2 separate regions of the Homo sapiens genome follow, and region 2 is linked to region 1. Evidence: fine-mapped expression QTL. A gene starts in region 1. The other region holds a variant in brackets. All regions are shown on one strand. Distances are from middle to middle.

What was found. PIP is the estimated chance that this variant, and not a neighbour inherited with it, causes the effect. A credible set is the group of variants that fine-mapping cannot tell apart.
Region 2: its variant is the best candidate, but not a certain one, in a credible set for the expression of RNF19A in tibial nerve (GTEx, PIP 0.62).

What each region holds. Positions count from the first base shown.
Region 1 is chr8:100,308,030-100,312,422 of GRCh38, reverse strand. RNF19A (ring finger protein 19A, RBR E3 ubiquitin protein ligase) reads left to right here and starts at 2,470. Exons shown (of 10, transcript NM_183419.4): 1 at 2,470-2,556. RefSeq lists silencers at 2,113-2,272, 1,978-2,367, 2,728-2,817, 2,868-2,917, 3,188-3,237.
Region 2 is chr8:100,249,457-100,253,849 of GRCh38, reverse strand. No RefSeq gene overlaps it. Among named protein-coding and RNA genes, the nearest start is that of RNF19A, 58 kb to the left of the region's middle. The variant CA/A (reference allele first, on the strand shown) is at 1,828.

The sequences.
Region 1 (4,393 bases):
CATCTTGCTCAGGCTGGTCTTGAACTCCTGGACTCAAGTGATCCAACCACCTCTGCTTCTCAAAGTGCTAGGACTACAGGTGTGTGCCACCGTGCCCAGCACACTTGGGGAGTTTTAAAAACTACTGATGCCTGAGCACCACCCTCAGTGATTCTGATTTAATTGTTGGGTGCAACGTGGACATAAGAATATGCAGCCAAATTTGAAAACACTGCTCTAAAAGCAGAGGGAGATATAGAACAGAGAGCACAGGGATATTTCCGGGGTATAATAAACAGGACTTGGTGGTTAGTTATGAATTGGAAGGGACAAAAAGAATGGGGCCTGGGAACAATCCTAGGTTTCTGGCTTGTGTCTGGGTGAATGAAAGAAGCATGCTTTGAGGAAAGAACAAACTACATCTTGGACAGCCTGAATCTGAGGTGCCTCTAGGAATTCAAGTTGGGGATGTTCAATAGGTATTTGTTTTTTAATAGATTTATTTGGCCTAGTGAAGAATAGAAAGTCCTTCTAATTTTTAGGAAGACAAGAAAGCCAGAAGCAGCATCTCTGGAAAATATTACCGTTGTACAGAGTGTAAGACCATTTTCATTCCGCACAGCTTCTTTATTCAAAATCCCCTTTCAAGCCAGTGCCCCATCTGTGCTGAAATGTTGTTTAACATGTTGATCTATTTTCTTTTCTTTTTTTTTTTTTTTTTTTTTTGAGACGGAGTCTCGCTCTGTCGCCCAGGCTGGAGTGCAGTGGCGAGATCTCTGCTCACTACAAGCTCCGCCGCCCGGGTTCACGCCATCCTCCTGCCTCAGCCTCCCGAGTAGCTGGGACTACAGGCGCCCGCCACCACGCCCAGCTAATTTTTTGTATTTTTAGTAGAGACGGGGTTTCACTATGTTAGCCAGGATGGTCTCGATCTCCTGACCTCGTGATCCGCCCGCCTCGGCCTCCCAAAGTGCTAGGATTACAGGCGTGAGCCACCAATTCCGGCCAACATATTGATATATTTTCAAGAAGGATATTATATATGGGTACTTAACTTACTATTCTTGTGCTATCTGTAGGCTTAAAGCATCCCATATGTAAAGTCGCTGGCAGCCTTCAAGTAGCATTTAAAGGTATAACAGCTTTAAAACTTCCCATAAATGAAAATAAACATACCCATAATTACTTCCTTTAAGATTCGAGGCCAAAGACACTTAAACCTAAACTGCCTAGCTTGTTCAATTTTCTAATTGGTAAACATTTACTGGGTTACCAAAGATACCAAGTACATTCGGAAAGACCATGGCTCCTTGGTTTGTTTCTAATTTAAATTACACAGACACACTAAACAAGGACTGGGAGAGTGATATATTTAGTTAAGTAACAGATGGCAAATGGACATTCTGTCCAGCCTCTATCACATTCGTTTCTCAGTATTCTATGTTAGAGTGATCTAAATCTTGAAGAGAATAAACCAGGAGGAAATGCACCAGGCCCAGACGGAATTTGTTTATTCAACTAAGAATACCAAGACTAGTGTAGATTGAAACATTCAAAGGGGATATGACTGGCTGAAAAGATATGAGACGAAGGAACAAATAAAGCTGGATTAAAGTAATTAGGAATGTATTAGAGATGAAATAGGAATTCTGATTACTTGACTGCAAAATAGTAAAAAAAAAATGAAATAAAAGAGATGAATGGAAGATACTCTCCAAACCCTCACGTAGGCTTGCTATTGTGGCTAAGTACTGTTCCTAACAGCCTCTGCAAAGACAGGTGCACTAAGAGGGCGGCTGCAGACGCACAGGGTGCTGCCGTCCTCTGGGAAAGGACATTTCCTCGCCGAGAGCTGCAACATCCCGGCACTTCTCTCCCTCGGCCTGCCAATCTAGCAGGTGAACCCTGAGAACACAAAGGAATGAATAATGCCGGGCAAACTGCCAAGAGCCAGAGTCGCCGAGTCTGGCAACTCCCTTCAACCGGGCGCAGCTCCAGCCACCCCGACCTGTCCTTGGAGGAGACGCTCTCTGGGCCACGGAGAACCGGCCAGGGAGACACCGGCCCCACTGCCCGGCGCGCTCGAGGCGAAGTCCCCTCCGCCAGGGACAGGCGTGGGGGCCGCAGTCGGGGCCACCCGGGTGCAGCGGGGCGGCTCCTGCGCGGGCGCGGAACGAACGTGCGCAAGGGAACAGCCGCGTCCAGAGCCGCCCGCAGCGGGCCCGGTGGGCGTGACGCCATGACGCACAGCACGCGGGCGGCGCGCTGGGGCGGGGCGGCCGGGGGCGGGAGGAAGAAGTGGGAGGAGGAGGAGGGGAAAGCGGGGGCTGCGGGAGGGGGAGGTGGTAGTTGCGGCGCTGGTTCCCGGGAGCAGCCGTCGAGCCACAACTGCGGAGGAGGAGTTCGGGAAAGCGGCCGTCGGGACTCCTCCCCTCCGTCGTCTCCGCCCCGGTTGAGAGGCGCCTCGGCGCATCGGAGGGACCCTCCCCCGCGCTTCCTCAGGCTGCTGTCGCCGCTGCTGGGAGATGGGCCTACTCGCCCGCCACCCTGCGCTGCCGCCGCTCTGAGGAGTTAAAGGTACGGGCGGGCACCCGGAGGAGCTTGCGCCCCGGAGCGGGAGAGAAGGGGCGGCTCTCGCTTACGACCCAGGGAGCTCTGGCCGGGCCGCAGCCCTAGCGCCCCTGCCCGGGACAGAAATGGATTCGGAAGTCCGGTGGGAAAGGCGTCTCCTCCAGTGTCCAGCGTGGGCTCGGGGCCGTGGCCGGCTTAGGGGGTCAGGCCTCGGTCAGCTCCGGGTCCCCTACCCGGCCCAGGCGCGGGCGTCTCCCGGGCCGCGGGGGCCGAGGTGGAGCGTGGGATCCGCCCCAAGCCCTGTCCTCCTGGTGCCTGTGCGGCCGGCGGCCGGCCCGGCGATATTATGACGGGCCGAGGCGGCGCTCCCCTCGAGCTGTCTCCTGCCCCTAAAGCGGGGGAGACCCAAGGGCGGTTGCCGCGGGGAGGCGGCGGGGGCGGAACGCATTCCTGACGGGTGAAATCGGCTCTAACGGGACCGATTTCCGGGCCTCGCTGCAAATTTGGAGCCGGGACATCGCCCCGCAAGCCGTGCTGCCTGGGGCCTTAGGGAGGGGAGCTGTGTTCGGAGGAAGGTTAGTCCGGGACTGCTACCACCTCCTTCAAAAGCAAAAATTACACATCACACCAAAATGGTGTAGCCTTGGGGTGAAGTATGTGTTAACGGGGGTCTTCCGGGATTGTCTCCCCGTGCTAAGCCTTTAGGGTGTTCCCAGCCCTCGCCCGGCAAGTAATACTACTACTTTGAATTTTCAGTTTTTCTTATCTGGGTTCCACTCTGCAGTTGCTCTTTTTTTCCCATTTCCATTAATGGGAAGAAGAAAAAGAAGTTTAGGGTTCATTAACCCCGCGACAAGGGCAGTAAATAAAAAGAGGGAAGAGAGTGGTTAAGGCTATATATGGGAGAGAGAAACGTTTAATTTTTTCCCATTGACCCTTGGAGATATAAATACACGAACGATGCTTTACTCTGCTTAATGTTTACTGTCCACAGTGTTGCAGAATGTTCTGTTGGGGTGACGTTAGAAAAGACGGCGTTTAAGTGCCGTTGCAATTTTCAAACCTAGATGTTGGCTAGAAATGCTAATTTTAAGTGTTAGTAAACAGTAGAGGCTTAAAGCAGCCCTTTCCTTTGATCGGTTGTCTTAAATTGTGATCTTTACATTCCACATTTTTTTTTTTTAAAGAACATGGTTCTTTTCATTTTTTTAAAATATCTTTTCTTATTTTAACCTAGATTCATTGAGTTTTGGTTGTTTGAAGTCTGACGGTTTGCCTTAAGTTTTATTTTCAGTTTTGCCATTACCCGTCTTAATACACATTTTACCACTTCTGTTTATAATGCAAGCCATTACCCTGTTTGCCTGTTTTTGCTTCTTTAACACTGACTGAACTATCTGAATTGAGTTAAAATGTAAATACTTCTCTATTTAGAAAATGGCGATGATCGTATTTTCAAATGTTCTTTCCTTGTTACAGTTTCATGGTAAAAATTTAGAATTAAGTCTTGGGACTTAATAAACCAAATTATGCTAAAAAAACACTTTTAAAATTTGTTAGTTTAATGCCCTGCTTAATGTTCTCTTTTTTTAAATTACTGTATAAAATTTAACTGAAGTTTAAATTTTACGTGTCCATGGAAAATATTTTAATGTCATCGCAAGGTGTCTTTGAGGAAAAAATTACAGTTGGCAACTAATGTTAGTGTATTTTTTTCACTATCTTAGCTTCCAGGAGATTCCAGTAAGATTAATTTTTAAAACTGCAGCATCATTTTAGGAGTTGAAGCACAACCCAATTCTTAGTACCAAATAGTGGCCACTGGAAATTTTGTTTTCTCATT
Region 2 (4,393 bases), 59 kb after region 1:
TGAACAGTGAATAGGGGTCATATAATTTAGAAAGATGCAAAAGGTAATTGTATATCAAATTATATACTAAAGTCTTAATTATCATTAGAGTTGGTTCAAAATAAAATACTTATTCCTCAGAACAACTCTGTGAAGGAGGTATTACTATCTTCATTACAGATGGGGGTAACTGAGGCACAGAGATATTAAGTAATTTGCCTGGAGTTGCACAGCTGCTAAGTGGTAGAGGTGGGATTCCCATTGTTTTGGTTTTTTTCTCTTAGATCATTGCATCATTTATTTATTTTTCTGGCCTTTTGCACTGGCTGGGACTTCTAGTGTATACTTCTGAATAGCGGTGGTTATAGGGGGCATTGTTGATTTGTTGATAACCTCAAAGGGAAACCTTTCATCATTTCAGCTATTATTTGCCACAGATATATTTATAGGATATCCTTTATTGAATTTTGTAAATTATCTTCTAACTCCTAGTTTGCCAAGAGTTTTTACCTTTGAAAATACGTTGAATTTTATTGGCTGCTTATTTGGTGGGGGGAGCATCTGCCATATAATTGTGATTAACATGTTAATGTAGTGAATTTGATTCTTCAAATGTTAACCTGGGGCAAACTTCAGTGATCAGAGTATGTAAGATTGGAATGATGTCTTCCTTGAATGTTTGGTAGAAATTGCTATTAAGGCTGTCTGCACTTGAATTGTTTTTTAGTACAAGAGAGAGCCAGGTTTTCAGGGTTAGTAAGCAGCTCATTTTCATCTATATGAGCAGTAAGATAAGGCAGTCTCTTTGCTCTATAAGAGTTGACTAATTCTAGAATGTGTGGGCTGGCTGGTGACAAGATAGTCTTGCTTTTGCTTTTTTTTTTTTTTTTCTTTCCAGCCTTTTGCCTAAATAGCGTTGGATCACATATTTCTGTCACTTTTTGTCCTGCATGGAGGTAAAATATAGACATACATAACACCATGTGTTCCAGGTATTAATACCTCCAGATTCTTAATTCTGTATTCAAGATATTAGGAGAACAAATCTTAAAGGAACTCTAGTCTCATGAGGGCAGGGACCTTGTCTTTCCTTTTATTTTTCCTATACTTATAGTATTTATATATATGAAGAGGAAATTCTGATGGGACAGAAGAACAACTGAGCAAAGGGAATGAGGATGTTTCTGGACTCAATTCAGAGTTGATAACCAGTCACTTCATAATATTGTACAGTAAAATAAGTTGTTTGAAGCAATACAGTGGCTGAAAAGACAGTTAACTTTTAACAAGGTTTTATACCAAATACATTAGTTTACAAATATTCTATCATGTATGACAGCCATTGGACCTAATTTTCAGGGTTAATATAGCCAAGGCATTTTAATTTTGCTTTTGGGGGCTTTTTGTTGCTTTTTTGCTTGTTTAAAGAAAATGTAATACTTTCAACTAGATAAGGAAATCACAGTTGCCTTAGAGGTATCATGAACTGATGTTCTAGAGACTTTCTATTGAAAGCTTAATTAAAATGTGCACAAATTATTTCCCCATCCTTTTTTCCTTGCCTTCTTTTTGTGTTTTGTTCTCCCCTTCTCTTCTCTGCCTCCTTCCCTCATTATCTTCCCCCATAACCAGTGCAAATGACAAAATGTGTGTGATGCCAGTTTTCTCCATGTTCATAGTCACACACAATGCATATATACATTAATTTTCTTGATTTTTTCTCAGTAATATCTTTGGGAAATCTGTCCAAGTCAACTGTATAACTCCAACGCATTCTTTTTAATGGCTGCATAAGAATTCTGTAGTATAGATGTGCTGCAGTTATTCAGACATTCTCATATTGATGAG[CA/A]TTCACTTTGTTATTTGTTGTTTCTTTCCTCAATACAAAACACTGCAAAAAAATTCTAATAATTACGTCCTTATATTCTGGTACTTCTAAGTATGGGAGATAAATTCAAGGAAATCAAATGGCTAGGTTAAAGTCCATGTCTATTGAATTTTTAAAAGGTTTACCAGATTGTCTCCCAAAAAAGGCTGTCACAATTTACAATTTGCTAACAATACATGAGTTCCCTTTTCCCTGCATTCTACTAACAATAGGTATTAGAGCTTTACAAACTTTTAAACTGTTTGGTGTAAAGTATTATCTATTATCTAATGTTACATTTTCCTGGCTAGTAAATGTGTACATCTTTTTGTGTTTTTTTTTTTGTTTTTTTTTGTTTTTTTTTTTTGGCCTAGGGGCTGGAAGATGGTATTTGAGTTTGGTGTTCTCTAAATTGGCTCTTATATCCTTTGCCTATTTTTTTTTTTTTATTGTTTTCTTGTCAGTTTGAAAGGTATTTTGGCCAGGTGTAGTGGCTCACTTTGGGAGGCTGAGGCAGGAGGATTGCTTGAGGCCAGGAGTTCAAGACTAGCCTGGGCAACATAGCAAAACCCCATCTCTGTTAATAAATAAAAATGAAAATAGGGCCGGGTGCGGTGGCTCACACCTATAATCCCAGCTACTTGAGAGGCTGAGGCAGGAGAATAGCTTGAACCCGGGAGGCAGAGGTTACAGTGAGCTGAGATCACGCCACTGCACTCCAGCCTGGGCAACAGAGCAAGACTCTGTCTCAGAAAAATAAATTTAAAAAAATGAAAATAAATATATTTTTTATACTATAGCTGTTAATAGTTTGACTCTTGTATTTTTCTCCAAATATGTCATTCGACTTTTATTAGCATTGTGTGTGCATTCTATTTTATCCTTAAGTAAACTTTTAATTTTTGAATATTTTTAGATTTACAGAAAAGTTGCAGATATTTCAGCATTTCCACATACTCTTTACATTTTTTTTCTGCAATATGAAACCTGTTGTGTGTCTTTAATTGTAATATTTTAGACCTTCTGGTCATGATTAAGCTCTCCTCTCTTTCTAAATTGTACTTGTAGTCTCTTTTGGTAGTTTGTAGTGAGATTTTAAATTTTTCATATTTTATAAAATCTATCTTCAATTTATCTTAGCATTTAGTGTAATATAAAGGTCCAGTTTTACTTTCTTCCAGATAGAAAGCCATTTGTGATGGCACTATTTTTAAAATAATCTTTCCAAATTTCCCAGTGATTTGAATACTGTGTTTACACTAGAATCCATTTCTAGATTTCTACCAAAAAGTCTGCTGGGATTTTGACTGAATCACCACTGATACCTATTTATCAATATGAGGAAAACTGGCATCTTAACAATATCAAGTCTTCCTATTCATGAATACAGTATATCTATCTTTTAGTTTTTTAATTTCAACAATGCTTTGTAGTTTTCAGTGTACAGATCTCTTAAAAATATCAATTTATGATTACATTCATTACGAGTATATAGAAATTAGATTTTTGTATATTGATCTTGAATCCTACGACCTTGTAAATCACATTAATTTTAGTAGTTTTTTTGTAGATTCTATAGACTTTTTTTTCTTTTTTAAGTCGGAGCCTCGCTCTGTCGCCCAGGCTGCAGTGCAGTGGCTTGATCTCAGATCACTGCAACTTCCGCCTCCTGGGTTCAAGCAGTTCTCCTGCCTTAGCCTCCAGAGTAGCTAGGATTACAGGTGTGCACCACCACACCTAGCTGATTTTTGTGGGGTTTTTTTGTTTGTTTGTTTTCTTTTTAAATAAAGACAGAGTTTCACCATGTTGGCCAGGCTGATCTTGAATTCCTGACCTCAGATGATCCGCCTGCCTCGGCCACCCAAAGTGCTGGGATTACAGGTTTGAGCCACCGTACCCAGCCTCTATTGGCTTTTCTACATAGATAATTGTGTCTGCAAATAAAGAAAGGTTACTTCTTCTTTTCCAATCTGGATGCCTTTTATAACATTTTAACCCCTTATTGCACTGGTTTCAACCTCCAGTACAATGTTAAATAGGAAGGGTAAGAGGACATCTTTACTTTGTTTCCAGTCATGGGGTGGAGGTAGTCTTTCAGTCTTCCTCAGTTTTTATTCCTCCTGGCAGGTTCTTGAAAAACTCAAGTAGGTGGCCTTATCAGGATTGATTGGAAAACCCCAGAGTTTGCCTCTAAGTTATTCACTACCTTGGGTGATTTGCTTCCCCCCACCCCACTTCATTTTTCACAATTGAGATGCAGTTCGCATAATTCACATTTTAAAGTGTACGATTCAGTGTTTTTACAAGGTCGTACAACTGTTACTAATATCTGACTCCAGAACATTTTCATCACCCCAGAAAGAACCCTTTACCCATTAGTAGTCAGTTCCCACTTCCCCTTCCTCTCAGTCCCTGGCATCTACTAATTTACTCTCTCTATGGCTTTGTCCATTCCAGACATTTCACATAAATGGAATAATAAAATGTGGCCTTTTGTGTCCCACTTCTTTCACTTACTACTTTCAAAGTTCATCCAAGGGATAGCAT